Regions from separate parts of the Homo sapiens genome. Here all the other regions are linked to region 3. Evidence: fine-mapped expression QTL. A gene starts in region 3. Each other region holds a variant in brackets. All regions are shown on one strand. Distances are from middle to middle.

What was found. PIP is the estimated chance that this variant, and not a neighbour inherited with it, causes the effect.
Region 1: its variant is the best candidate, but not a certain one, in a credible set for the expression of PARP4 in whole blood (INTERVAL, PIP 0.90).
Region 2: its variant is the best candidate, but not a certain one, in a credible set for the expression of PARP4 in whole blood (INTERVAL, PIP 0.84).
Region 4: its variant is the best candidate, but not a certain one, in a credible set for the expression of PARP4 in monocytes after interferon gamma (Fairfax 2014, PIP 0.62).
Region 5: its variant is the best candidate, but not a certain one, in a credible set for the expression of PARP4 in neutrophils (BLUEPRINT, PIP 0.61).
Region 6: its variant is the best candidate, but not a certain one, in a credible set for the expression of PARP4 in lung (TOPMed, PIP 0.65).

What each region holds. Positions count from the first base shown.
Region 1 is chr13:24,406,432-24,411,479 of GRCh38, reverse strand. No RefSeq gene overlaps it. Among named protein-coding and RNA genes, the nearest start is that of LINC00566, 78 kb to the right of the region's middle. The variant T/C (reference allele first, on the strand shown) is at 3,046.
Region 2 is chr13:24,558,218-24,563,265 of GRCh38, reverse strand. It overlaps LOC101927375 (ankyrin repeat domain-containing protein 26-like), which reads right to left. Exons shown (of 11, transcript XM_011535334.3): 4 at 5,010-5,048; 5 at 953-981; 6 at 786-858. Among named protein-coding and RNA genes, the nearest start is that of PARP4, 48 kb to the right of the region's middle. The variant C/T (reference allele first, on the strand shown) is at 2,797.
Region 3 is chr13:24,509,903-24,514,950 of GRCh38, reverse strand. PARP4 (poly(ADP-ribose) polymerase family member 4) reads left to right here and starts at 2,173. Exons shown (of 34, transcript NM_006437.4): 1 at 2,173-2,245. All of the region lies in intron 1 of LOC105370117 (a long non-coding RNA gene), which reads right to left. RefSeq lists a silencer at 2,016-2,175.
Region 4 is chr13:24,422,146-24,427,193 of GRCh38, reverse strand. It overlaps PARP4 (poly(ADP-ribose) polymerase family member 4), which reads left to right. Exons shown (of 34, transcript NM_006437.4): 33 at 596-728. Among named protein-coding and RNA genes, the nearest start is that of PARP4, 88 kb to the left of the region's middle. The variant G/A (reference allele first, on the strand shown) is at 2,311.
Region 5 is chr13:24,356,841-24,361,888 of GRCh38, reverse strand. No RefSeq gene overlaps it. Among named protein-coding and RNA genes, the nearest start is that of LINC00566, 28 kb to the right of the region's middle. The variant C/T (reference allele first, on the strand shown) is at 2,270.
Region 6 is chr13:24,396,146-24,401,193 of GRCh38, reverse strand. It overlaps the pseudogene CYCSP33. Among named protein-coding and RNA genes, the nearest start is that of LINC00566, 67 kb to the right of the region's middle. The variant T/C (reference allele first, on the strand shown) is at 2,354.

The DNA of each region.
Region 1 (5,048 bases), 100 kb after region 3:
CTGTTGGCTCACTTAATCTAAAAGGTTCTCACAAAGTTTAAGAACAACCTTAAATATTACTGGAACAAAAACAGACATCTAGACCAATGGAACAGAATAGAAAGCCCAGAATAAGTCCATGCATTTATACTCAGCTGAGTACAAAGGTGCCAAGAATCCAAGATGGGGAAAGGACAGTCTCTTCAATAAACAGTACTGGGGAAACTGAATATCCACTTGCGGAAGAATGAAATTGCAACCTATCTCACCCAATATACAAAAGTCTACTCAAAGTAAACGCTTAACTGTGAAAGCTGAAATAGGAAAACTACTAGAAGAAAACATAGGTGAAAATCTTCTTGACATTGGTCTGGGCCAAGGTATTTTTGGATATGACTGAAAAGCATAGGCAACAAAAGAAAAAGCAGACAAATGATACTTTATCAAACTAAAACACTTTTGCACAGCAAAGGAAACATTTATAGAGTGAGGAGACAACCTACAGAATGGGAGAAAATATCTACAAAGCATACATTCAACAATAGGTTAATAGATTATTTTTAAAAAGGAAATCAAACAACACAATAGCAAGAGAACAAGTTACTTCTCTGGAAAATGGGCCAAGAACCTGAAAAGATATTTCCCAACAGAAGACATACAAATGGCCAAGAGGTATATGAGAAAATGCTAAACTTCGTTAATCATCAGGGAAAAGCAAATTAAAACCACAAAGAGATATCCTCACACCTGTTAGGATGGTCACTAACAAAAAGACAAGAGAAGAGTTGGTGAGGATGAAGAGAAAAGGGATCCCCCTTGTACACTGTTGGTGTGAATGTAAATTAGTAGTTATTGTGGAAAACAGCACTGAGATTCCTCAAAAAACCAAAAATAGAACTACCATATGATTTGGAGAGTCCACTTCTGGGTATATATCCAAAGGAAATGAAATCTGCACTCCCGTGTTCACTGCAGCATTATTCATAATACCCAAGCTATGGAGTCAATCTAAATGTCATCAGTGGATGAATGGATAAAGAATATGTGCTATCTATAAATAAAGGCATACAATTCAGCCTTAGAGGATATCCTGTCACGTGATAATATGGATGAACCTGGAGAATATTATGCTAAGTGAAATAAGCCAGGCATAGAAAGAAAAATACTGCATGACTCACTTATTTGTGGAATTTTAAAAAATCATATTCATAGAAGCAGAGAGTAGAATGGTGGTTACCGGGGGCTGGGGGGACTGTGGAGATGTTGGTTTTTACTTTATTATTTTTTTAGATGGAGTTTTGTTCTTGTTGCTCAGGCTGGAGTGCAATGGTGCGATCTCGGCTCACTGCAACCTCTGCCTCCCAGGTTCAAGCGATTCCTCTGCCTCAGCCTCCTGAGTAGCTGGGATAACAGGTGCATGCCACCACACCCGGCTAATTTTTTGTATTTTTAGTAGAGATAGGACCTCACCATGCTGGCCAGGCTGGTCTCAAACTACTGACCTCAGGTGATCCACCTGCCTCTGCCTCCCAAAGTGCTGGGATTACAGGTGTGAGCCACTGCGCTCAGGCTGAGATGTTGGTTAAAGGATGCAAAATTTCAGTTAGACAGGAAGAATAAGTTCAGGAAATTTATTGTACAACATAGTGACCATAGTTAATGTATACTTGAAAATTGCTGAGACAGTAGATTTTAAATGTTCTAACCACAAAAAAGTATGTGGAGTAATGCATACGTTAATTAGCTTGATATAGCCATTTCACAGTGTTTATGTATATCAAAACATCATATTGTACACCATAAATATATTTTTATGTGTTAATTTTAAAATAAAAAATCAGCCTTAAATAAAATAAAAGTACTCTGACATTCTAAAATTAAAGACTGTTTGTATTTTGAGAGATATAAACTGGCAAACCAAAAATAAAGAAAGCCAAATACTAGGAAAACAAGGGAAAATATGCTCAACCTTCCTTAGTTCTTTTTTCCTACTTTCTTCCCTTCCTTATCCTCTCCCTATCTCCCACCCTTCCTCCTCTCCTCTTTCCTTTCTCCTTCCCTTCTTTCCACCTTGGAGCTAATATTTTAAAATGATAACAGTTATTAATACGTATTAATAGCAATACGTATCTTGTTCTTGTACTTTATATTTACATGTATTTAGAAAGGGAGAAATGAAAAGGAAAATGTTATTACCTTTGCCTCCTTTACAGTGAATCGCTACGATGTTTTCAAGATCTTGAGCCATCCACTCATTTACTTCCTTGGTGAAAACCACCATCTCACTGATTTCAAGTTTAAGATTTTTAGTTAAAATATCTTCAAAAAATCAAGCCCAATATATTTAGCCCTCTTCTGATAGCCAGCTTAGCATAAAACTTACTGTAGAGTGGGGACATTATGATCATCAATCATGAGTCTACCAACGCTATTATGGAAGTGCTTAGGATCATAAGCTCTTTCACCTAAAATAAATAATATGTATGTCCTATCTCTACAGGGAATAACATGATAAATGATGAAGTTACGAATAAGTTAACATATCTTATTAGAATTCCTCATCTATCTTCAAAAAGAGCTTTCCAAGTTGCTCCTGCTCTCTAAAGTAAATGCAAGGTCTCAAAAACATAAAGATGGTAGTGGTTTATCCATCTCATGTAATCTAACCTCAACTTATTTTTGTTTAATAGGTATAATTTTTAACTTTCTAGCAGACTATTCATTATATTATTGCAGGGTAGTTAGAAACCACACAAGAGGCAAATGTAGCTGACCAAAATCATTGCCCCCTGAAAATGTCTACTGAGTATACAGGTAGAGGTAAAAATCAAGAGAGACAGAGTATTAAGCTGGGTAACAACCTATTTTCTACAGAGTTTTTTGCCTTTTTCCCATCTAGAGCCCTGCTCTCATCACATGCCACTGCTGATGGGTCAGAAGACTCATTTGTTAAATTGTCTATGTCCTCATAACACAATCTGGCAGGAAAAACAGAAAGATTTTCCTAAACCTAATATGGGTAGAACAGATCTTCCCTAAAATGGTTTGCTTCCACCCCAGCATCAC[T/C]GGTACTGCCAAAGCCACATCCTTCATACGGTACTTTGTGCTGCTGGGCTAACTCTTTCTAGTAAACGGGGCCAGTCCAAGATAGGGATTTTTAAATTCATTCCTTGCCACCACCAAATACTTATGATTAAATGCAATCTAAAAAACAAAATCATCTTCTTACATGCAGTAATCTGTTTTCTATCTACAGTAGCAAAATATAGAGTAACGTACACACTGCATAGATTGTAGACTTGATAGTGGTTTGGATGCTTCTCGTCTAGAAAGTGCACAACTTCCTAAAAAAGAAAAACACATATCTTACCTATTTACATGACACCAACACAAGCTATTTCCTAGGGGGAACCTAAAATGGTTATTACTTTCATTAATTTGTCTCTCACTAGCATCTTCTAGGGGAGATTCGGGGAATAACAGGGTATGCAAATTTCAAGTTCTAATCCACTGTGATTTTTCAAATAGTCCACAATGTGTGTTTGGCTACACAGTTGAGTCTCTATTGTAAATACACACTGTTTAAAGCTATCACATAAGTAAATTAGCTGGTTAACTAACTTTAAGTAAATTTGTTCTAAATCATTAATTCACAGTTAATGTGGTTCTTGTTTAAATCTAATTCATATTGGTTCTTATTTAAATTTAATTTTGAATGGATACAACTTTAGAGAGTGATCTGCATATTACAGTCTACGTAAGCACTATGTAAACAAATAAATGCAAAAAGTATATAGTATGATTGTGTGTATGCGTGATAGAAAAAGATAAACATAACAAATTTTAAATAACTGGTAACAATATGGAGACTTTTTTGGCTCATCGGTTCTCTTATTTTTTTAAATGAAGATATACATGTACCTATAAGTGTGTGTGTATATATATATATATGTACGTATAACCCTTAAAATGAAAAACAAATAGTATTTATTATTTAAAATACAGTTAATACCACTATATGAATCCAACTTTCAGTAAATACATCTTTCTGAAACATACACACACATATGTATATATGTCTGTGCAACAACAAAAATGACACGAAATTTTAAAACTGATTAGTATGGTACCCTCAGAGCAATGTTTACCGGCTTAATATTGAGAAAAATAAAATGAACATATCAAAATCATCCATTTATTAAACTGGCTATCTCTGTTAGGAAGAAATAATAAGTCAAAAAGATGAACACTCTGAATCTGCATAGTGGGGGAGGCAAGGATAAACAGTTTTATATACTTCAGAATTCATGGAATTTCTTACATAAAATCCATACGGGCTTAGAAATCACATATAAAAACTATAAATATCTATGAGAAATTTAAGCAAATTTTAATCAATTCTTTGGCTGAGGAAGAACTAAAAGTGTTGAATCAATGGAAGATCAATAGGCTTAGGTCTGACTTCATAAAAATCTGAAATTTCTGCTTTAAAATGCTATAATGAATAACAGGGGAAACGATTTTTCAGAAAAATTGACTAAATGGGGACTATGCCGAGTATGATAAATTAATAATTCATTAACAACAACTTAAATATTACTCACTCACCTTATAGATAAATGGGCCAAGGACATAAACAATCCGTAAAAGAGAAAATCTAACTGATCAACAACCTACACAGATAAATATTCAGTGTCACCAATAACGAATTCAAAACAACAATAACGTGCCATTTGCACCCATGAAATTAGCCCTTTCTCTTTTAATGAGAAAATCCAATGTCGGCAAAATAAGGCATGAAATTTAAAACTTTGATTTATTGTTGATACAAGAATACAGTTGCTCTTGGATTTGGCAATATATATTAAGAACACTAAAAATATTCATACTCTTTAACTAGGTAATTTCACTTCTAGCAATCTATTACAGTTAAAAAGCCTTATGCTCAAAGATGTCTGTTGCTGTATTACTGATTATACTGACACTTACATGTCCAACATTAGAGGTTAATCATAGCACTAATTAAATATCATGCAACCATTAGAATACTGTTCTGTCCTTCATTTTAT
Region 2 (5,048 bases), 48 kb before region 3:
CTGAATAATATATTTATAATGTACAATCAGTTATATGATTGAAATTTTAGGACAGAAACACCAATTCTACATATGATTTATGGCCATACACATATATGGTAAAATGTATGAAAAGTGCATGACAATGACAAACACCTAATTCAGGGTGTTGGTTACTTCTATGCAATAATTATTAATTGCACAAAAAACCCTAAGCCTATAAAGTTTCAGAATCACTCTTTGAAATGAGTGTGTCTGCCAAATAGCCATGAAAAAAAGATTACTTTCCTCATTTTTGTACTCCAAGATATTCCCTGCACACACACACACACACACACACACACACACACTAATCAAAACATCCAATTTGCTTCAGATAATCAGTCTAACACTAGGATGAAGTAATTAAACTTTATACAAAATTGACATGTTAGCAAGGAAAGCTTTCCTCTAGGTAAAGATCAGAATTCCAACAAGCATTTCAAACACGGGAAAAAATTGTAGTCTCATAATTCACTTCTGTGAAACCCGAATGAGTATAGGTATTCCCAACTGAGAACTTCAGCGTAGCAATACGTAATACAAGATACATCTAAGTTAGAGCTTACATTTTTAAAATCTATCTTATGCTTCTAAATATAATGTTTTTCAAACATAGATACCAATGCTAATATCTGCATTATATATATCAAATCTATCCCTCAAATTTGAAAAAAAAAAAGACAGGAATACGAAGACTGCTAGCATTTAAACTATTTTTAATGTGCTTCTTTCCAGAGTTAAATTTGTATTGCAAAAATTTTTACCTGATGTGCATGCTTGTACATCTTTCATTCCGACTGCCTGGTTCGAAACACACTCTTTCATTTCAACCTTAGGCTGAAAGGGTTTTAAGACAAAATGATTAATAAGTAATATATATTTCATATACTATGTGGTTAATAATTAAAGATAAATATAGAAAAGTTATTACCTTCAAGTGATGATATTGCTGAAGAGAATCTGGAAGGCAAAAGGGACATATAATCAATTATATATAAATATGATAAATCTAACCATACACTCAGAGTTAGTATCAAGCTGAATCTTAGTGCTTCGTTTTAAAAATAATGAGTTTAGATTTAGGGGTGCATTTTTTTGTCAGGACAACAACATGACAGAAATATCCTGAAGAAAACTAAGAAGATAGGTTGAATAAAACATGCAGTTAACATTTCAAAGGCAAGATTCTGATTCGAATATCTGTAACTGAGAGAAAAGTATGCACGCAACCATGTGTACATGCTGAGGAGGAGAAAAATGATCTTTAACCAGAGGAGCAAATCATGACCCTGGGCAGATAAATGTCAAAGCTGATGGTAGAATGCTATAGTGTGTCTTTAATGTGACACATCAGAATCATTTATACCATTCTACTACAAGTACCTACTATGTCCTTCAATTGGTCCTAGAATGTAGGAAGCACACAGTTGTCATGACAGTTCATTTGAATGTTTAATTCATTTCTCATCAGAGAAAGTGTTCGGATCCACACTTTCACAAGTGTGAATTGCTTTGGATCCACACTTACACAAAATAGTTCATAAAAATCTTCATTTTTTTCATACCTACTTGAGCTTACTGATAGGCCTACATTTCTTATATCCCGTAGTTTAGCCATCTTAAATTTTTTGATCCACTCATGCAAGAAGGTATATAAAACATGTCTAAAAATAATGTCTAAGAAGCTTTCAACATTGAAATATTAATAAAAAATGCATTGCTACACAATTATTAGTTACTACTGAGCTTTTATATACCAAAATGGGTGTAATATTTATGTAAAGTAATGCCTTTTGTATTTGAGGAATAAACTTTGTAATTTTTTTTGTTTCCAAACTTAGTTTGGGTTGGCATATCATGTCATCCATGATAAACTTTTACAAAACAGGCATCCTATTTAAAAAACCGGCTACCTTAAAGAAAAAGCAGCCAAAGCTCCTACATTTAACTTTACCTCAGTTGATTAACTCATATTGAGAGGTGACAGCGTGCTGGCAGTCGTCACAGCCCTCGCTTGCTCTCGGCGCCTCCTCTGCCTGGGTTCCCACTTTGGCGGCACTTGAGGAGCCCTTCGGCCCGCCGCTGCACTGTGGGAGCCCCCTTCTGGGCTGGCCAAGGCCAGAGCCGGCTCCCTCAGCTTGCAGGGAGGTGTGGAGGGAGATGCGCTAGCAGGAACCGGGGCTGCGCGCGGCGCTTGTGGGCCAGCTGGAGTTCTGGGTGGGCGTGGGCTTGGCGGGCCCCGCACTCAGAGCGGCGGGCGGGCCCTACCGGCCCCAGGCAGTGAGGGGCTTAGCACCTGGGCCAGCGGCTGTGGAGGGTGTACTGGGTCCCCCAGCAGTGCCAGCCCACTGGCGCTGCGCTCGATTTCTCGCAGGGCCTTAGCTGCCTTCCCACGGGGCAGGCCTCTGGACTGCAGCCCGCCCTGCCTGGGCCTTCCCCCGCCTCCATGGGTTCCTGTGCAGCCCGAGCCTCTCCGACGAATGCTGCCCCCTGCTCCACGGCGCCCAGTCCCATCCACCGCCCAAGGGCTGAGGAGTGCCAGCGCATGGCGCGGGACTGGCAGGCAGCTCCACCTGCAGCCCTGGTGCAGGATCCACTGGGTGAAGCCAGTTGGGCTCTTGAGTCTGGTGGGGACATGGAGAGTCTTTATATCCAGCTAAGGGATTGTAAACACACCAATCAGCACTCTGTGTCTAGCTCAGGGTTTGTGAGTGCACCAATCGACACTCTGTATCTAGCTACTCTGGTGGGGCCTTGGAGAATCTTTACGTCTAG[C/T]TCAGGGATTGTAAATACACCAGTCGGCACTCTGTATCTAGCTCAAGGTTTGTAAACACACCAATCAGCACCCTGTGTTTAGCTCAAGGTTTGTGAATGCACCAATCGACACTCTGTATCTAGCTGCTCTGGTGGGGCCTTGGAGAACCTGTGTGTTGAAACTCTCTATCTAACTAATCTGATGGGGAGGTGGAGAACCTTTGTATCTAGCTCAGGGATTGTAAAAGCACCAATCAGCGCCCTGTCAAAACAGGCCACTCAGCTCTACCAATCAGCAGGATGTGGGTGGGGCCAGATAAGAGAATAAAAGCAGGCTGCCCCAGCCAGCAGTGGCAATCCGCTCGGGTCCCCTTCCACACTGTGGAGGCTTTGTTCTTTCACTCTCTGCAATAAATCTTGCTACTGCTCACTCTTTGGGTCCACACTGTTTTTATGAGCTGTAACACTCACCACGAAGACCTGCAGCTTCACTCCTGAAACCAGTGAGACCACAAGCCCACCGAGAGGAACGAACAACTCCAGATGTGCTGCCTTAAGAGCTGTAACACTCACCGCGAAGGTCTGCAGCTTCACTCCTGAGCCAGCGAGACCACGAACCCACCAGAAGGAAGAAACTCCGAACACATCCGAACATCAGAAGGAACAAACTCCAGACATGCCACCTTAAGAGCTGTAGCACTCACCGCGAGGGTCCGTGGCTTCATTCTTGAAGTCAGTGAGACCAAGAACCCACCAATTCCGGACACAATATCAACAAAACATGCATCTTTGATGTCTGATAGTTACAGAGAGAAGAAATTAGTTCCTGTGGTTTACCCCCATTCTAGCACTCCCTCCTTCCAGTAATTCCTGGAACAGCAATCACCTAATCTTCTGTTTGAGTGCCAATATATTGCAGTCACTAGAAGTGACAGCTCTCAAGTTTCCCTATTATCAACTCCAAAATTAACTAGCCAACTTCTTTCTTTCCTCCCTCCTCCTCCACTCACAATCCCTCTTCCTTTGCAAAAGTAGTCTCTAGATCTGTTGTCCTGATTCTGACCTTTCTGCCGCCTTTTGATGGACTATTCCCATGACTTCTCTTCTCTTCATTTAGCAGTAGTATCTTCCAATGATGATTTCTGTTTCTTCATCTCTTTCTCCTTCCCCTCTGGCCAGAGACACGCTCAGAAATAAAGGGAAAATCATGCTTTCCCTTGATCCTGTTATGTCTTGAGTGGTGATCCAAGGGCTCTTCTTCGAGATTTCTCTGAAGGCACAGCTATACCCTTGCTACTGAGAGTGTGGTCCTAGGACAAGAAGGGTCGGCATCACCTGAGATCTTATTAGAAATACAGAATCGCAGACTTGTGGAATCAGAATCTGCACTTCCAACAAGGTCCTCAGCTGATTTGTTAAAATTTGGGAAGCTCTGGTCTATACTGAGTGTGCTCCCACATTAGTTAACCTCAACCTGCCCTTTTGGAATCCAGCCTCAAGCTCCACCCTATCACGTCCTCCAAATCTAAGCTGCATTACAAGTCGTAAAGTTACTAATGAACTTTTTATCAGGCTATAGCTTCCTTGATCTTTCCATAATTAATCCTACCCTCTTCTTTCCAATGCTCTTCTTTTGGCCCCTAAGATACTGTCCCATGAAGTAACAAGATTTTATAGCACATTAAATTATAGACATGTAATTTATGCACGGCTGACCATACATTACATTCCTCTATCGCAGATGAAACATAGCTCTGTGTGGTCAGGTACCTCCATCCTTAATGCATTCCCAAAAGTAAGGAAAACAGCAAGAGTGGCAACATTTTGCTTGAATTCTCTGACAAGTTTCGGTACTGGAAGCTCACTTTATATTCTCCTCAAATAATTATCTTACTCTATCGCCCTTCATTGCATATATCTTTTTCCCTCATTTACTCCCTGTACTCTCCGCCTTTTCACTCTTCATTCCTTCATTTACTCTTTTCTTCTTCCTTATTTTCTGACTTTCCTCAGGTCTTACAGTATCTTGAATTGGAACTAATGATTCAGCTCCTTTAGTGGCACTCTCAATTAAATTGGTTGCTAATGCCTTACAAAATATACAACATATCACTATTTCACTTCTCTTTTTTTGACTATGCACTTAATACCTTATTTTCCTTGGCTACTAGAACATAACAGAGCTCATGTTTTTAAACATTCTGTCAAATTTTTAAATAAAATACAGTTCTTACCTTCTTGTTCCTTTATTGTAATTTTTCCTCTTTGACCAT
Region 3 (5,048 bases):
GATATTGCTCTGTCACCCAGGCTGGAGTGCAGGAGTGTGATCTTAGCTCACTGCAGCCATGAACTTCTTGGCTCAAGTGATCCTCCTGCCTTAGCCTCCTGAGTAGCTAGGGCCACAGGCATGCACCACCATGCCCGGTTAATTTTGTAATTTTTTTGTAGAGAGGGGATCTCCCTATGTTGCCAAGGCAAACTCTTGGTCTCAAGCGATCCTCCCGCCTTGGCCTCCCAAGACACTAGGATTACAGGCATGAACCACCATGCCTGGTCCTATTGTACTTTTTAACTACACAATTTCTTTTTGGTTCTTTTCAGTTCCAAAATGTGTTTGGTTCCTTTTATAATTTCTATCTCTTTATTAATATTCCTTATTTGTTTTTTAAATAATTTCAACTTTTATTTTAGATTCAGAGGGTACATGTGCAGGCTTGTTACCTACATATAATTCGTGGTGCTGAGGTTTGGGGTATGACTGAGCCCCTCACCCGGGGACTGAGCATAGTACCCAATAGTTTTTCAACCCTTGCCCCTCCCCCTCCCTCCCTGTCTAGTTGTCCCCAGTGTCTATTGTTGCCATCTTTATATCCATGAGTACCCAGTGTTTAGCTCCCACTTACAAATTAGAACATGTGGTATTTGGTTTTCTGTTCCTTCATTAATTCACTTACGACAATGGCCTCCAGTTGCAGTCACGTTGCTGTGAAGGACATGATTCCATTCATTCTTTTTATGGCTTCGTAGTATTCCATGGTGCAAATGTACCACATTTTCTTTATCCAGTCCATTGTCGATGAGCACCTAAGTTCATTCCATGTCTTTCCTATTGTGAAGCGTGCTGTGACGAACATACTAGTGCATGTGTCTTTTTGGTAGAATGAGTTCTCTTGTTTTGAATATGTACCCAGTAATGGGATAGCTGGGTTGAATAGCAGTTCTGTTTTCAGCACTTTGAGAAATCTTCAAACTGGTTTCCACAGTGGTTCAACTAATTTACATTCCCACTGACAGTGTATAAGCATTTCCTTTTCAATAAAGCCTTGCCAGCATCTGTTGTTCCTTGACTTTTTAATAATAACCATTCTGACTGGTGTAAGATGGTATCTCATTGCAGTTTTAATTTGCACTTTTCTGATAATTAGTTATGCTGGGCTTTTTTTCATGCTTGTTGACCATTTGCACATCTTCTATTGCATATTCTCTATTTATTGAGACTTTGTTCTCCTGGTTGTTTCTTTCAGTTATTTTTCTATGTTTCCTTTCACTTTTTGTCCATGTTTAAGACAGTTTATTTGAAGTATTTGTCTAATAATTCCTATGTCTGTGCTTCCTCAGCTCAGGGACAATTTCTGTTCATTTCTTTTTTCCTTTGAATTGGCCATTTTTTCGCCTTTTTTTTTGCATGCCTCATAATTTTTTGTTGAAGATTGGACATTTTGAGCATTACGATGTGGTAACTCTAGGAATCAGTCTCTCTCCTCCCCCAGAATCTCTTGTTGTTTCTTAGACAACCCTATAGAGTAGGTTGTAATGATGAAACTTGGTAAATTACCTTGTCCCCAGCCCCCTTGGTAATAAATTGTGGAGTCAGGATTCAACCCCATACCCTTTCCACTGTATTCTCTACTCTATCCTTTCTATTCTCATTTTATTCAGTATCCTAAAAATCTGAATCTTCCCCATTGCTTTATTCCCATTTCAGTGAATCTCAGATCTGTATCTCCAGCCCCCTGCCTCTCTTGAATGGCAGATAAATATATTTCCAACTAGTTACACTGTCACGAATTTCAAACGCAGGAAGGCTTAAAGTAAATTTATTATCTCACTCTCCTGTTTCCACGAACTTTCCCGAAATTTTCTTCTTTCCCGGCCTTGTGAATCCCTTCCATTTCTCAGTTAAAGGACAGCACCATCCACCCACCTCTCTCAAAGCCGAGCTTTGTATTAATCCTCATTGACAAAATCCCTCCTGAAATATGAAACTGAAAGCCCTGAACCCTCCGGCTGATCTTGGAAGAGAAACCCCGCCAGAGGCCGGGGACCCGCTCCCCACCTGGCGGACCCGATTCCGGGCGCGTTCCGGCTATCGTCCCTGCTTGGGACGCTGCGCCCGCCTGGTGCGGGGCGGGGTTCCGGCGCAGTGGCGCCCGCCCAGCCCCGGGGGCAGGGAGAGCCTAGATTACGGAAGTACCGCGAGCAAGGAGCGCGGAATCGGGGAGCGTCCGGAGCTAGCTGGATCCTCTAGGCAGGTGCGTGGGCGCTGCGGGGTGGGGGGCTGCAAAGGTCCCTGTAGTCCTAGCCAGGAAGTGGCCCGCGTACTACTTTCCCGCCAGTGGCTGCACCCTTGCCCTGCGCGGCGTTGGCGCTGTGGGCCTGACGGCGCTGCTAGGCTCGGGAGTGGACTAGCTAGTGCAGCCAGCGCCCTCGGGGAGGGATATTGCGGTCGTTCCGCTCTGCCCCGCGGCGCAGCCCTGGTGACGAGAAACCGGGTGCGGTGGGGGGCGCCCACCGGAGCCGACAGTCACACCAAGTCTCCGCACCCCGTGCGGTGCGGTTCGCAGTAGCACGCGTTGTTTCTTGTTTCCAGTATGCCAAACGGCCTTCTTTCCTAAAGTTAGGTTTCGAATTGTGCAAAAAGTAAGGTGGTTTGGTGAGTAATCAGGAAGTACTATCTGACCTCGTGAGTCATTGGGAACACCGTGATAGAAACAATGTGTTTGTTGAGGTCCAAAGTTGAAAACCTCTAACTCAGTTAAGTAATTCCTGCTAGGAGGGCCGAATGGTTCACCCAGGGATCGAGTTGGTAGATCACAGGTTCTAGAAAACTAAGGCGCTGCTAAATATTCAAGCCCAAGCACTTTCAATTCTGGACTGCTGGATGACAACAATTATATGACAATATCCAAGCATAGTGCTATGATAAAGGGGAAGTTCGCTCTGAGATGTGCGTGTTGCAGACTCATTACATCTGACTTTATCATTTATTAAGTAAACATTAGGTCTTGTTTGTGTGCGTAGAGCTACTGTATATCATGTAGGAGTGAAATAAAAGTAGTACCTTTGTTGTTTAAGGGTTTAATAAACCCATTAGGGAGGTGCATTACTGATGCCATTTGAGTCCAAAATGCAAATAGTGTCAGAAGGCTTTTCTGTAATCCTGGGCTTTAATGGATACGTGAGAGTTTTTAGTAAGCAAGCTTTTATTGAATGCCCACTGTATATCAAAAGTGATCTTAGCGTGTGCTGACTCACACACTTCGGAAGGCGGAGGCTGTAGAATCAAGACTGCCCAGAAAGGGACTCCTCAGGGTTTTCCGAGAGGAGGAAATGCCAGTGGTAAAGACGAAGACCTGTGAAGCAGGAAGCCACTTGATTCCACCTACACCAATGGTTTATGGAGCAGCCAAGAGTTTGTGAGGAGGCGCGCTGAGGGTTTCTTAGGAATCGGGGCTGTTCCCTGCTGTCTTTGGGTGGAAGACACTCTGTGAATGTTATTTGGGGAAGAAGCTGGGAAGGGGGACAGGCTGGAGTGACTGTGCAGATTTGCCTTAGAGAATAACCAGCCCCTAGCCCAGTGTCCGCCACATCTCATATGTACGTAATCAGCGCTGATGAAAACATGAACTAACTCTGTGTTTAGAGAACACTTTGAAACAAGGAAGAACTAGTGGCGCATGTCGGTTAGGCGCTGTTAACCCAGAAGAGGGCTGGCATTTTACAGAGACTAGAGATGAATCTGTGGAAAGAGAGAAGTCAAGACCTGACTTGAGATTTCACGAAACCCAAAGTGCGCCTTTCCATACCTCCCACGCAGCCGCAGGTGCTAAGAACAGACCGCAGATTTATGTTTAAAATGTTTTTACTCTGGGCCGGGCGTGGCAGCTCACACCTGTAACCCCAGCACTCTGGGAGGCTGAGGCAGGAGGATGGCTTGAGCCCAGGAGTTTGTGACCAGCCTTGGCAACATAGTAAGAACCCTGTCTCTACCAAAATTAGCTGGGCATGGTGGTGCAGGCCTGTGGTCCCAGCTACTAAGTAGGCCGGGTGAAAGGATTGCTGGGAGGGAGGTCGAGGTTGCAGTGAGCTGTGACAGTGACCACACCACTGCACTCCAGCTTGGGAGACAGAGCCAGACCCTGTCTCAAATAAAATAAAATGTTTATACTTTGATTTCACAACTATGTGTATGTACTTAATGCCACTGAACTGTACACACAGTTTTAAAAACTGTACCACAATTTTTAAAAGGCTAAAAAATGTTTATACTCCTTGATTCAGTAATTCCATTTCTGGCCATCAACTCTAGGGAAACTATGACAGAGATGTGGCAAAAAAATATATGTACAAGCATTTTAATTAAAGTGTATTTCTAATAGTGAACACTTTTTTTTTTTTTTTTTTGAGACGGAGTCTCGCTCTGTCGCCCAGGCTGGAGTGCAGTGGCGGGATCTCCGCTCACTGCAAGCTCCGCCTCCCGGGTTCACGCCATTCCCCTGCCTCAGCCTCCCAAGTAGCTGGGACTACAGGCACCCGCCACTACGCCCGGCTAATTTTTTGTATTTTTAGTAGAGACGGGGTTTCACCGTTTTAGCCGGGATGGCCTCGATCTCCTGACCTCGTGATCCGCCCGCCTCGGCCTCCCAAAATGCTGGGATTACAGGTGTGAGCCACCGCGCCCGGCCAATAGTGAACACTTTTAAGTAACCAAGTATCTGATGACTTGGGGAAGGATGAAATAAACGCAAAGCTTATGTAACCACTAAAAACACCTTCAAAGAATATTTAGTGACATGGGGAGGATATCACTAAAAGCTAAATAAGCTGTGAAAGTGAAAGTCCTATTTAAAAAGTAAAGAGCAACTGGCTATAACATTAAATATAGAATATTAATAATTTAGAAAATACAATGATACAAGAAATAATAACACCAAAAAAATTAAAATATCAACAGTGGGGGCTAGGTGTGGTGGCTCATGCCTGTAATCCTAGCACTTTGGGAGGCAGAGGTGGGCAGATCACTTGAGCTCAGGAATTCGAGACCAGCCTGGCCAA
Region 4 (5,048 bases), 88 kb after region 3:
TGAATATTTAGGTTTACTCTTCTAAGCTATTTGTAACAGGAGCCTAAAAACTGGATTTCTTTTAGTGAACTTCATGGCTCTTTGGTTATTGAAGATGGCAAGTGAGGGGCACTCTGGATACAGTTCAGTTTCCTGACAATGATCAGGATAATATCATAGGCACACGGGTCTAACTGTCCTCATTTTTTATTTAAACAGCAAACCATTTAAGGACCTTGAAGAGTATTAGAGTTTCACGATCTGCTCATGTACTGTGATTTAACCGTATTATAATTCTTTTTTTTTTTTTTTTTTTTTTTTTTGAGACAGAGTCTCACTCTGTCGCCCAGGCTGGAGTGCAGTGGAGTGATCTCGGCTCACTGCAAGCTCCGCCTCCCGGGTTCACGCCGTTCTCCTGCCTCAGCCTCCCGAGTAGCTGGGACTACAGGTGCCTGCCACCCCCGGCTAATTTTTTGTATTTTTTTTTTTAGCAGAGATGGAGTTTCATTGTGTTAGCCAGATGGCGTATTGTAATTCTTTAATGAGAATTTTATAAACAGGCACAGTTTGAGATGCAGAGTTTCCAACAGACTTAACGGAGTTTTTTTCCTTTTAGGTGTAAAAGGAAGAGAATGTCTCCTGGACCTAATTGCCACAATGCTGGTACTACAGTTTATTCGCACCAGGTTGGAAAAAGAGGGAATAGTGTTCAAATCACTGATGAAAATGGATGACGCTTCTATTTCCAGGTGGCTTTAACTATAGTATTATGCAACTTATTTATATTTTCAACTATTTATTTAATAAACCTTAGAAACAGCTATAGGGAATTATCTTACATGTGTACACTATAAGTATGTAGCAAGAGAATTTGTTTGCAGGTGACAGCTTGCCCATAGTCTCCTGTGGCGGGCAGGGCTGATGTATTTGTGCCTTGGGCTGCACAGGAAATGGGCTCAAAGAGTTTCAGTGCAGCTCCCGCTGGAGGCTGGCGCTTCTGGGCTCTGGATGTGGTACTCTTCACTGCAGTCTGCTGATCCTGGGTGCCTCCAGAAGACCCACAATGTGACTGTTGGGCCCAGCCCTGTTCCCAACAATGGCAGGGCCTGGGACAAGAATACAATACAAGTATTTAAAGTTTATAACTTTGTAGTTTATAACAAGTGTTTAAAGGTTATAAATCAAACTAGCAAACTATTAGATTAAATGTGTTCTAATCTCCTCCCTTGGCAAATACAACTTCATAACCACCTGGAAGGCCAGGTTCAAATTCGGCCCTTGGTTGACCCCCAGCACCCTAAGAGGGTTTGCCTGCAAACGTGAATACCCCACCCCACCCATCAAAATGCCATCCAGACCCCATGCCAGTGCCCCCTCACACCAGCCACCTTGTAGCACCAGTGAGATGGCAACACTGTTCAAACTCAGGATGACAGACCAGGGAAGACCCTGGAAGTGGACTCAGGGCCATGTGGTCAGGGATGCTGGAGTTGCAGGGTCTAAAAAGGAGGATATGGGCTCTGGGGTGGGCATATTCTCTTGTCCCTACAGACCCCCCACCCCATGGCAAGAGGGTCAAGACCAGAGTAGGATCCCTCTGAGATATATAGATATAGATATAGATATAGATATAGATATAGATATACACACACACACACACACACACACACATGCACACATGCATACACATATACACATATACATACACATGTAATTGGCTTATGTTCTTTTAAAGGCAAGATAAGGGGAAAACTAATCAAACTAATAATATTATTGCTACGGGGATTTGATAGAGGGGACAAAGATAGAAGCTAGGTTTCTCCTAGTGTGCTTTGTTTTGCAGTTTTGACTTTGGAACTGTGTAAATATTTTACATAATAATGCATAAGATTGATATTTATTTATTTATTTATTGAGACAAAGTCTGGCTCTATCGCCCAGGCTGGAGTGCAGTGGTGCAATCTCAGCTCACTGCAACCTCCGCCTCCTGGGCTCAAGCCATCCTCCCACCTCAGCCTCCTGAGTAACTGGGACTACAGGTGTGCACCACCACGCCCTGCTAATTTTGGTATTTTTGTAAAGAAGGGGCTTTGCCATGTTACCCAGGCAGGTCTGGAACTCCTGAACTCAAGCAATCCTCCCGCGTCAGCCTCCTGAAGTGCTGGGATTACAGACATGAACCACTGTGCCCATCCTGGGAATTAATTTAAGGTGAATTTAAAACATAGTACTGGCCGGGCGCGGTGGCTCACGCCTGTAATCCCAGCACTTTGGGAGGCCGAGGTGGGCAGATCACGAGGTTGGGAGATCGAGACCATCTTGGCTAACATG[G/A]TGAAACCCTGTCTCTACTAAAAAAAATACAAAAAAAAAAAAAAATTCGCCAGGTGTGATGGCGGGTGCCTGTAGTCCCAGGTACTGGGGAGGCTGAGGCAGGAGAATGGCGTGAACCTGGGAGGCAGAGCTTGCAGTGAGTCAAGATCGTGCCACTGCACTCCAGCCTGGGTGACAGAGTGAGACTCCGTCTCAAAAAAAAAAAAAAAAGTACATAATTTGACTATATCTCTCTAGTGGGATAGTACCTAAGGATTAAAAAATATTACAAAGAAATCTCACTGGGAGTAGTCATGGTGTTAATAATACTTTTGATTTGTTATTTTGGAAGGTAGATATTAATATTGTTAGAAACTAATATGTATAAAATCAAAGAAGTTAAACAAAACCCCTTGATTTCTAAACTTGAATTAGATCAGAGAATAGAGGAACATGTTACTTGACACCATGGAAATGCAGTCAGCGAAGTCTGGAATGTGGGGAAATAAATGGCAAGAGAAAAATAAATGGCAATAGAAAAAAAAGGTTGAGGAGCAGAACCTGTAAATAAACCTTTAGAGACATATCAACCAAAAGCAAGGGTAGACCTTGTTTAGGTCCTGATACAAACAAAACCCACTGCATTTAAAAAAATGAGATAGGAAAAATTAAACACTACCTGGATATTTTATGATATTAAAGAAATATTGATAATTATTTTTTAAGTGTCATGATTAAGAAAAAGTTCTCAAACACAAAACAGGTGTTCAGGAAGTTCTGGGCTAGGCAAATTGGCTCATGCCTATAATCCAAGCACTTTAGGAGGCTGAGACGGGAGGGTCACTTGAGCCCACCAAGATCAAGCCCAGAAGTTTAAGACCAGCCTAGGTAACCAATGAGACTGCCATCTCTACAAAAAACTTTTTGTAATTACCCAGGCATTGCTGGGCACGGTGGCTCACACCTGTAATCCCAGCACTTTGGGAGGCCAAGGCAGGAGGATTGCATCCAGGAGTTCAAGACCAGCCTTGACCACATAGCAAGACCCTGTCTCCACAAAAAAATTTAAAATTACCCGAGTGTGGTAGTGTGTGACTACTCAGGAAGCTGAGGTCGGGGGGATTGCTTGAGCCCAGGAGGTTGAGGCTGCAGTGAGTTGTGATCGTGCCACTGCACTCCAGCCTGGGCAACAAAGCGAGACCCTGTCTGAAAAAAAAAGAAAATCATAATTTACTATATGTAATTTATACTTCCATTTTTTAAAAAGCAATACCTTCTCATTAGTTTGCCAAGAAAGATGAGAATTTATTTTGTTTTTCTATTTTGGGAGTTTTCTTTTTTTTTGTTTTGTTTTTATTTATTTATTTATTTTTTGAGGCCAGATCTCGTTCTGTCACCCAGGCTGGCGTGCAGTGGCACGATCTCGGCTCACTGCAACCTCCACCTCCCAGTTTCAAGCAATTCTCGTGCCTCAGCCTCCTGAGTAGCTGGAATTAGAGGTGTGCACAGCTAATTTTTATATTTGTGGTAGAGATGAGGTTTCGCCATGTTGGCCAGGCTGGTCTCGAACTCTGGCCTCAAGTGATCTGCCTGCATTGGCCTCTCAAAGTTCTGGGATTACAGGAGTGAGCCACTACACTAGCCTATTTTTTGTATTTTATTTTAAAATAAACCAGTGCCACTTGCCAAGAGGATTAATTAAATAAATATCAAAGAAAAAACACTTTGAACAGCTAGGAGGTGGGACTAAAAAATTAGTATTGACTTAATAGGCACATCCAAAGACGCATTTATTCTATTTAGATCATTGCCAATTATTAATATTATAGCTGTTAAAACAAGTATAAACTTTGAACCTGCTTTTGAACTGTAATATCATAAAGTAAAGATTTTCAAAATTGATCAAGTATATTCCAGCATATTGCTCTTACTCCATTACTGCTACTGTGCTAGCAAAATGGTTTGTTGGCACTTGAGTACATAAGACAAACAATTTTAGGCCAGACACGGTGACTCACAGCTGTAATTCCAGCACTTTGGGAGGTTGAGGCGGACAGATCACAAGGTTAAGAGATTGAGACCATCCTGGCCAAGATGGTGAAACCCCGTCTCTACTAAAAATACAAAAACTAGCTGGGTGTGGTGGCACGTGTCTGTAATCCCAGCTACACAGGAGGCTGAGGCAGGAGAATCACTTGAACCAAGGAGTCAGAGGTTGCAGTGAACCGAGATCGTGTCCCTGCACTCCAGCCTGGCGACACAGTGAGACTCCATCTAAAAAAAAAAATTAAATATTTTTTATTTCCTGTTTATTGCATATTTGAAACTTTGTTCTATATTTTCTATTTCAGGATGTACATAACATTGATGCAAGAGCACATTATATGGGGGTGTAGGCACAAGATTTTCTTGCTAGCGGAATGTGAACCAAAAAGTGTAGAGGCCAATCAGTAAAAATATTCAAAGCCAGTTTTGTTGTTTTCAGCAGTTAGTAACTATCAGTAGATGAATATTTACTAGGAAACATTGGTCTTTTAACCACTTTGGGCATGCTTCTTATTTAGTATGTTCATCATGATTTAGTATCATGACATTCAGCGAACATTTATTGAGTGCCTACTGTGCACTAGGGACTAGTAAGCATGTTAAGTTTGTAAGCTTTGTTGATTTCCACCACAAACCCATAGGACCTCAGGTTATTCTCATAATTGAGGAAACTGAGATTCCCAGTGTTGAATGAAAGCCACACAGTATCACAT
Region 5 (5,048 bases), 150 kb after region 3:
TTCTTCTGCAGTAGAGTGGTGGGGCACCCCTTCCCTGACCATCTGCCTCCCAGCAAGCTGGTGGAGGGGCTCACTCCCATCCACGTGCCTCCCGTGGGCTCCCGCCTTCCTCTGGGCACCCTGGGTGCACCAAGGTGTTTTAGAAGGAGCTGCACCGGCTTGGAGGCAAGAAGGGCAGGAAGCGGCTGTGGAGGTGCCCAGCAGGAAGGGCTTGTGTCTTAAGGTCCTGGGTATTTAGAAATGTTTTACACAGGCTCTCTTTTTGATTTTATGTAAAGGGAGTTTTCACAGCTACGCACATTTATTCCAATGTTCCACTGGGGAGAGCTTTCCCAGAACCCCGGGGCTCCCAGCCCCCATGGCTCTTGAGGTGGCTCCAGTATGCAGTGGATGCTTCCAGGGTGCCCCAGGGTCCCTTGGGGGCTCTGTGGAGCTTCTGTTTCTGAGGGTGGAGGCCTGTGTTCATGTGAGGGTGGAGGACTGTGTTCACCTGAGGGTGGAGACCTGTGCTGAGGGTGGAGACCTGTGCTCATCTGAGGGTGGAGGCCTGTGTTCGTCTGAAGGTGGAGACCTGTGTTTGTCTGAGGGTAGAGCCCTGTGTTCATCTGAGGGTGGAGACCTGTGTTTGTCTGAGGGTGGAGACCTGTGTTCATTCTCCTTAAAGGCCTGCCTTCTGGTGCTGCCCTGCTATTTGTGGCTGTTTCCAGAGGCAAGCTGGAAGTGCGGTGCAGCTGGGGCTGTGGAAAGCACTCCCTGCTGTGCCCTGGGGGTCTCTATGGGAACACAGAGACTGGAGCTGGAGGGGCTGGGGGTCCAGGGAAAGTTGAAATAAAGGCTGCCTGCACCAGGGCCTTCCCCAGCACCTGTCACTGAGGCTGCTGAATGAACCGGGCAGGGATGGCCTGCAGGCCTGTGGTCCTGATGACTTAGTTTTCGCCCTGATCCTGCTATCTGGGGGCTGAGGTTCTGCCTGGACGGCTGCCCCAGAGGAGACTGGGCAAACCCCTGGCTCCTGGGGTGGTCTCCTGCAGCCTGTCAGCAAGATCCCCTCTGCCCTCAGCAGGGATGCTGGGTGCCCTAGGGAGGCCTCAGCAGCCTGTTTCATAGCTGAGGACGCTGAGACCTGGAGCACAGGGATGCCCACCTGAGGCCCCACAGTTGGGGAGAAGCAGGCGTGAGGGTGGGGCCCTCTGGGTCAGATGCTGTCTGCCTGGCGGTATGGCTGTTGGAGTAGGGGGAGCTGGTTCGGGGAGGGGTCCGGGAGCCATTCCACTGGGGTAGTTGCAATGCCCAGAGCTAAGCTCTTGGTACTGGCTCTGTTCCATGCCCTGGGCAGGCATCGCCTCCTTCCATCCTCAAACCCTCTCCAAGGTACTCAGTATCTTATCCCTGTTCTGTTGATAGGGAAACTGAGTCAGGGTCGCCATCACTGGGCTGGCCAGATGAGCTTGGGTCCAGGCCCAGGCAGCCCTGCTTTGTGGGTATGAAAGGCCTGGTCCCCACTGCCAGGCCAGCACCCAGCTATGGGTGGTGACCAGGCCCGGGGCCTCAACGTGCACACACACGAGCTGGGTTCCTAGCGGCCGCTTGACTTCACAGGATTGCTGAGAAAATCAAACAGGTTAATGAATGACAGTTGGTTGGACCCAAGTAAGGAGTTGTTAGTAAGTTCCTTTCTGGTATTTAACCAAAGCATTTGTTTGCAGCCCTGGGACTGTTTTCAAGAGGAAAAAGTCCCCGCAAAGCAGCAAGCAGAGTCTCTTTAATGTCCCTTCTTAAATTAAAAAAAAAAACGGTAGAAGTCAGGAGTAAAATTGCCTCTCATGAAGACACCACGGAGAACCGATGTAATTTCCATAATGCAGGACAACAATGAGCGCACAGCCTCATGGGAGAATAAATCCAGCCACTTTAAGGGAAGAAGGGAGGCGCTAAGTATATCACATCAAAAACTAACTTATGAACTTCAAATCTATGCACCAATTCAAAATCTGATTTAACAAACTGCTCTTACTAAAGTCAATTGGTAAGCATTCCATTATAAAAACAAATGAAATCTTCCCCGTCTATGAGATAAATAATTTTCTCCCCACACCTAAGCGGGAGGCATTAGCTTAACGAGTAACCATCTAAATTATGTATTAAACTCAATTACTTTGTATTACTGCTTTCCAGTTAGGGTTCCCTGATTGACTCACGTGGCATGGAGACTCCTCCCGGGCAGTCCCCGATCCTCCTGGCCCCTGGATCTGGCTCTGCAGATGCCATT[C/T]ACCCCCAGCTTGAGTGTGTCTCTCCCTCGCTCTAAGAGAGTGAGGTGTGGCTTCTGATGGAGAGTGAACACGGACGGCGGCATGATCACCAGCTAAATCACCATCTCAATCTGCCAGAGGCACTCCTGGCGGCCACTTCTGAGGCTGCAGTATCTCCCGGCCCTCTAGAGAGAGCTCCCGAAATCACCAGCATCGCCAGGGCAGCTCTGCTGAGCCTGTGGCCTCTGCAGGTGCAACCAGTGTGTTGCTGCTACCATGAGTGTCTTCCTGTCCTCAGAGGTGCCAATCCCCCAGCTCCTGCCCTGTGCTGGCCATGCCTCAGCCAACACTGCACCACGGTGAACTCCCCTATGTAATCAAGAGCTTTCCTTTTAAGTATCCAGACTCTCTGAGAAGGGCTGTGTTCCTGGGCATATTTCTCAAACAGCAGGGACACACTCCTTTTAAAATGAAAAAACGTGTAGATTCCCAAGTGCAAAAATGCTACTTGTGAGGGGTCACTGCGCAGTGATCGCAGAGGCCAGCTTGCCCTGCAGAGCCCGCCGTGGCCTTTATGGAAGCCGAGGAGCTGTGGGAACCCCATTCCCCGGAGTCGCCGTGCACCGTGAGCTGCTCTGAGCAACACGGCGGGAGCTGGAGGATGGGGCCAGAAGGGGCTCGATGGTGAAAGCACACCGGGAGGGAGAAATGACTGGGCAGCCTGCTGCAGGTGGCAGACACCTGGGAACACGTAGCACAGGTGGGTGGGGAAACTAGGAGCACCGGTCAGGGGTCTGGGTGAGAAAGTAGCTCTGAAACGGCGACGTGAGGGAGGCGAGGGGTCGGTCATTCTGAGATTAGAGGAAGGAGTCCCAGCAGGGCAAGCCACCAGGGCAAAGGCTCTAAGCCCCCATCTCAGGGTGGGGGTGGCAGCAGGTGGGGACAGACACCTTCAGGCTGGGCTTCAAGAGAGGCCTCAGAGCTGGCACCAGAGGCCCCCTCTGTCCCCTTCTCTGACTGCAGGAAGAATAAAAGCCTGGAAAGAGGGCCTGGCCGAGTTACACAGAGGAGCCCCCTCAGCCAAAAAGAGCCAGGGGAGCCAGAAGCTGGAGAGCTGCTCAGGAGTTGGGGACGCTACAGGCAAGGTCCCTGCTTATTCCTGAGTCTTGGCTTGGAAGCCTCGAACTTTCATGTCCACCCAGGCTTCTCTGAGCGACCCTAACAGGGACCAAAGGCCCAGCAGCCCACACATCACCCTTGATTGGCACGAGGTGGGGATGGGGCCCCCCAGGGCCCTGGGAAAGGGGGCTGGACTTGAGCTGCCAGGTAGGGGCCCCCTGTGGGGCTTGGGGTGGGTGGGGCAGGGGTGGAGCTGGCTGGGCCTCACAGGCCCGGGAGCCAAGGAGACAGCTTCAGTGCCTTCCCTGGGGATCCCCAGACCAGGCACTCCGAGAAGCCGGCTCTGCACCATGACAGCCACTGCTGCCACACCACCTAGGTCCCAGAATGAACCCTGCCAGCCCACCCCAGAGACCGAGAGACAGGTAGGTGAGCCGCAGAAGGGACCCAAGGGCACTGAGACAGAGGCTTAAAAGGCCAAATCTAGCTTTAAGTCATGGAATCAAGCAGCCGACCATCCCGGTACCCGGCCACAATGGCATCCAGAGAGCGGCCCCCCAGCAGTGTCATTCGGGCCCCGTCCGGTTCCTGTTCAGGGCCTGGAAGGCCTCCGTGATTTAGCTGCACAAGCCTGGGGCTGTGGCACTGTCGGAGGACCTGCCTGGCCTCTTCATGCCGACGAGGTTCTCATGTAACCGGCAGCATAACCCGCAGGGCCAGATTGACCTTCTCACCTAACCTGAGAGGGAGAAGAACCAAGGGGCTCTCAGGAATAAGGCATTCTTCTGGGCAATCGGGAGTGCAGGGGGCTGAGCTGGGATTCCAATTCTGCATCACAGTGGGCTCCAGGTTCCGCAGCAGTTTCAGGGGCGACATTACCGAGGTCCTCGTGGGCGGGAGAGGGAAGTGTGATGGGGCACGTCAAGGACGAGGTGCCAGCTGGCCACTGAAGGATGGTGGGGCTCCATTCAGCAGAGGTGGGGGCTGTGATGGGGGTGGATGGGTGTGTGAGGTGATTGGATTTGTGTGTGTGGTGTGTGTGATGAGTGTGTGCGGTGCATGGTGTCTGTGTGATGGCCCGATTTGTGTGTGTGGTGTGTGTGATGAGTGTGTGTGGTGCATGGTGTCTGTGTGATGGCCCAGTGTGTGTGGCCGTGTGTGCAGGTGTATGTGTGATGAGTTTGTGTGTGTGGTGTGTGTGTGCCTGTGATGGTTGAGTGTATATATGGTGTGGTGCGTGTGGTGTCTGGCAGGTGTGCATGTGTGTGTGTGATGAGTGTGTGTGGGTTGCTTGTGATGAGTGTGTATGATGAGCGTATGTGTGGTATGTGTGACGTGTGTGATGATCATGTGTGATGAATGTGTTTGCGATGAGTGTGTGATGAGTGTGCACGGTGTGAGTGTGATTAATGTGCATGATGAGCGTGTGTGGCATGTGTGATGAGCATGTGTGATAAGCATGTGTGTGGCATGTTTGATGAGCATTGTGTGGCATGTGTGTGATGAGTGTGTGATGAACGTGTGTGTTGTGTGTGTGATGAATGTGTGTGATGAGTGTGTGTGGTGTGCATGTGATGAGTGTATGAATATGTGTGTGGTGTGTGATGAATGTGTGTGATCAGCACGTGTGATGAGCATATGTGTGGTGTGTGATTAGTGTGTATGATGACTGTGTGTGTG
Region 6 (5,048 bases), 110 kb after region 3:
ATTTAACCACAAGCCAGTCTTAGTTTTAAATCAGGACTGCCCAACAAAATATTCTGACAGTCATTCATAATCTGAACTCTGGTGTATGAGATCTATTAAATTATGGTACACATAAAAAAGTCATGAGACATTTCTGTTTTGCAATATAAGGCAGTGGCCAATTATTACTCCCTAGCAGCTTTTTTGAGATAAGTTATCAAGTCTGCCCTTTCTGCCTTCTTCTTAATGCTGGAAAAGATCATTTTTGTTCCAGGAATGTACTTCCTGGGATTCTCAAAATACTTCATCAGTGTATCCTCTCCCCAGGTGATGCCTTTGTTCTTATCGGTGTCTATGTAAGATAATCCAATGGCCTGACCTATCTTCCACCTGAAGAGACCATGGAGATTAGGCCCAGTCTTGTGCTTGCCTCCATTTTCCATGGTGTGGCACTGGGCACACTTCTGAACAAAAATCTTCTTGCCTTTCTCAACATCTCTCTTTCTCAACATCTCAATATCTCTCAAATTCTCTCTTTCGTCACTGGCACTACAAATGTTCTCGCTCAGAAGCCACACGTCCTGCTCTATGTTCCACATTTTCTTTATCCAATCTATCATTGACTGGCATTTAGGTTGATTCCATGTCTTTGCTATTGTGAATACTGTTGCAATGAACATACGTGTGCATGCATGTATTTTTATAAGACAATGATTTATATTCCTTTGGGTATATACCCCATAATGGGATTGCTGGGTCTGATGGTATTTCTGCCTCTAAGTCTTTGAGGAATTGCCACACTGTCTTCCACATGGGTTGAACTAATTTACACACCCACCAACAGTGTAAAAGCATTCCTTTTTCTCCACAATGTTCCCAGCATCTGTTGTTTTTTGGCTTTTTAATAATAGTCATTCTGACTGGCATGAGATGGTATCTCATTGTGATTTTGTTTGCATTTCTTTAATGATCAGTGATGTTGAGCTTTTTTTTCATATTTTTGTTGACTGCATGCATGTCTCTTTTGGGAAGTGTTGTTCAGATCCTTTGCCCACTTTTTAATGGGGTTGTTTTTTTCTTGTAAATTTAAGTTCCTCATAGACTCTGAATGAGGTATTACCAGTGAAGGCTGAAAAACAGCAAAGATGGCAGCCAGCTCCTTCCTTTGGAAGCTCCATCCCAGGGGGATACTGACCTGTAGCCAGCCCACACATACCTGCAGGAGGTGGCTGGAGACCCCTGTTGGGCATTCTCACCCTGTCAGGAGGCATGGGATCAGGGACCCATCCAAAGAAGCAGTCTGGCTGCTTTGGGGTAGAGCAGGTGTGCTGCATTGTGGGGGATCCTTCCTCCTCCGGACCACCTGTATTCTCCAAAGCCAGCAGGTTGGAGTGGCTGAGTTGACCAAACTGCAGAGATGGCAGCTGCCCCTCCCGCCAGGAGCTCCATTTCAGGGAGAGATCAAAGCTCTGTCCATAGAACCGTTGCTGGAGTGGTTAAAGCCCCCACAGGGATTCCTGCCCAGTGAGGAGGAATGGATGGGGGTCCTGCTTAAAGAAGCAGTCTGGTCATGATCTGGCAAGCCAGCTGTGCTGTGTTGTGGGGAACTCTTCCTTGTCCAGACTGTCTGTATTCTCCATAGCTGGCAGGCTGGAGTGGCTGAGTCTATGAACCACAGTGGTGCCGGCTGCCTCTCCCCACCTCCCCGGGAACTCAGACCCATCTGAGGTGGATTCCAACCCGCTGCTGTTGGCAGGCTAGGATTCCAAGTCAGTGGGTCTTAACTTGTGAGGTGCTATGGAAATGGGGCCTGCAGAATGACGCTGCCTGGCTTCCTGGATTCGGCCCCCTTCCCAGAGATGCGTACGGACAGATTTCCTACTGTGCTGAAGATCCCGGAGGCTAGAGTGTGTAAAACTCCTGGGTTTCTGTGTGTGCCTGAGCTGATGTGCCCAGACTCCATACAGGTCTGTGTATCAGACCCACGGCCCTGGTGGCATGGGCTCACAAGGAATCTCCTGATCCATGGCTTGCAAAGATCCATGGGAGAAGCACGGTTTCCCGGGCAGGACTGCACACTCACTCACTGCTTCCCTTGGCTGGGAGTGGGGGTTCCTTTGGCTCCACGCCACCCCTGGCTGGGCCATCGCACCCTCTGCCTGCTTGTCTTCATTCTCCATTGGTCGACCTGTTCATCTAGTCAGTCCTAATGTGAGAACCTGGTTGTCTCAGTTGAAGGTGCTGAATTCCCTCGCCCCTTTTCATTCCTCTTTGTGAGCGCGGCAGACTGCAGCTGCTTCTAATTGGCCATCTTGCATCACTCTAAACATTTCTTTTCTAGCCTTAGTTCTTAATTCCTATAGTCCCTCGTTTA[T/C]CACCAGTTTCTTGATAAAATAATCTGTCCACGTTCTCCAGTCATGGGATGATGACTCAGGCAGGGGATCCAGGACATTATCTGGGAAGTAGCTGAACTTGCAGCCCTGTCCTGTCCGGAACTGAGTTAACACACTGCAGAGAGGTACTCCTTCCACCTCTCGGCAACTGATGCCAGCCCTCAATAATTACATTTTTATTGAGGTATAATAAGTATTGTAAATTACATAAAATTAAACAATGATCCTTTCAGCTGGCACTTCACAGTAAACAGCATTATATGTTTGAAATTAATTTAGTCATCCACAGAGCCTAAAGCCATATGCCCTGACTATAATTTAGGATCTCAACCTAAGAATACACATTTTGGGTTATAGCATCCCCATCTTTCCTCCCTATGGTAGACTATCAAAAACCGCCACAATTCTTTATAGTTCCTTCCATCAAGAGTTGGAGTTTATTTTCTACTCCTTGAATCCAGACTGGTAGTGTAATTTGCATTGTCCAATAAAATGGGGTAGAAGTAATATATAATTTTGAGCCTGGGCCGGAAGAGGATTTGCATTGTTTTGTTGCCGCTCCTGGGACTCTTGCCTCTGCCGTCACGTGAACAGGCCTGAAGTAGCCTACTGGAGAATGAGAGACCACATGGGGCCATTCAGCCAAGTCAGGTAATTTTCTTTCCTTTCATTTAAAAAATCGGTTTCCTTCATTCTTTAAAAATATTTTTAACTGACACATAATACTTGTTCATATTTATGAGGTACACAGGGATATCTCAATACTTGCATACAATGTGTAATGATCAAATCAGGATAGTCAGCATATCTGTCACCTCAAATATTTATCATTCTTTGTGTTGGGAACACTCAACATCCTCTCTATGTAAAAATATACAATAAATTATTGTTAACTGTAGTCACCCTACAGCACTATAGAACACCAGAACTTATTCCTATCAGTAAGCTTAACTCTGTTATTTCTTTGTTGATTTTCTGTCTAGATGATCTGTCCAGTGGTAAGAGTGGGGTGTTAAAGGCCCCAACTGTTGCTGCATTGGAGTCTATCTTTCCCTTTAGACCTAATAATATTTGCTTTGTTTATCTGAGTGCTCTAGTGTTAGGTACATATATATTTACAATTATTATATCTTATTGCTAAGTTGATCCCTCTATCATTACAAAATGACCTTCTTTGTCTCTTCATACAGTTTGACTTAAAGTCTGTTTTATCTGATGTAAGTATGGCTACCTCTGTTCTCTTTTGATTTCTGTTTGCCAGGAATATTTTCTTCTATCCCTTCACTTTCAGTCTGTATGAACCTTTACAGTTGAAGTGAGTTTCTTGTAGGCAGTATACAGTGGGACTTTTTTTTTTTTTTAATCTTGGCAGCCAACTCTATATCTTTTAATTGGGAATTTGATCTGTTTACATTATATTCAAGGTTACTATTAATAGATGAGGCTTTATCCTGTCATTTTGTTCATTTTTTTTCTGGTTGTTTTATATATCCTTTGTTCTTTTCTTCTTCTATTTTTTTTTAATCTTTGTGGTTTGGTCATTTTCTGTAGTGATAAAGTTTGATTCCTTTCTCTTTCTCATGTGTATATCTGCGCTAGCAGTGAGTTTTATACTTTTGTATGTTTTCACAATAGTAATCATCCTCTTGCTTCCAGAAGTAGAACCACCTTAAGCAGTCCTTGTAAGGCCAGTCTAGTGGTAATGAATTCCTTCAGTTTTTGCTTGTCTGGGAAATACGTTATTTCTCCCTCATTTCTAGGGATAGCTCTGCTGGGTATAGTATTCTTGGTTGACAGTTTTTTTTTTTTTCCTTTCAGTACTTTGAATATATCATCCCATCTCATTGTCTACTGACCTGTAAAGTTTCCACTGGGAAATCCACCGTTAATCAAATGGAGTTTCCCTTATATGTGACTTGATGCTTTTTTCTTGCTGTTTTTAATATTTCCTTTTTTTTTTTTTTTGGATACAGTCTCAATCTGTCACCAGGCTGTAGTGCAGTGGTGTGATCTTGGCTCACTGCAACCTCCACCTCCTGGGTTTAAGCAATTCTCGTGATTCAGCCTCCCAAGTAGCTGGAACTACAGGTGCATGCCACCACACCCAACTAATTTTTTTGTATTGTTAGTAGAAATGTGGTTTCTTCATGTTGGCCATGCTCATCTTGAACTCCTGGCCTCAAGTGATCCACCCGCCTCAGCCTCCTGAAGTGCTGGGATTACAGATGTGAGCCACCTCACCTGACGAATATTCCCTCTTTTTGACTTTTGACAGTTTGACTATCATGCACCTCAGAGAAGACCTTTTTGGGTTGAATCTATTTGAGAACCTTTGAGCTTCCTAGATTTTGGTCATATCTCCCAAGTCTGTTTTTAAATCTCTTGATTGTATTTTTCTTTTTTTTTTTTTTTTTTTTTGAGACAGGGTCTCACTCTGCCACCCAAGCTGGAGTGCAGTGGCACAGTCTTGGCTCACTGCAACCTCCACCACCTGGGTTCAAGCAATTCTTGTGTCTCAGACTCCCAAGTAGCTTGGATTACAGGCATGCGCCACCAAACCCAACTAATTTTTGTATTTTTTAGAGACAGGACTTTGCCATTTTCATCAGGCTTTTCTTGAACTCCTGGCCTCAAGTGATCCACTGCCTTGGCCTCCCAAAGTGCTGGGATAACAGG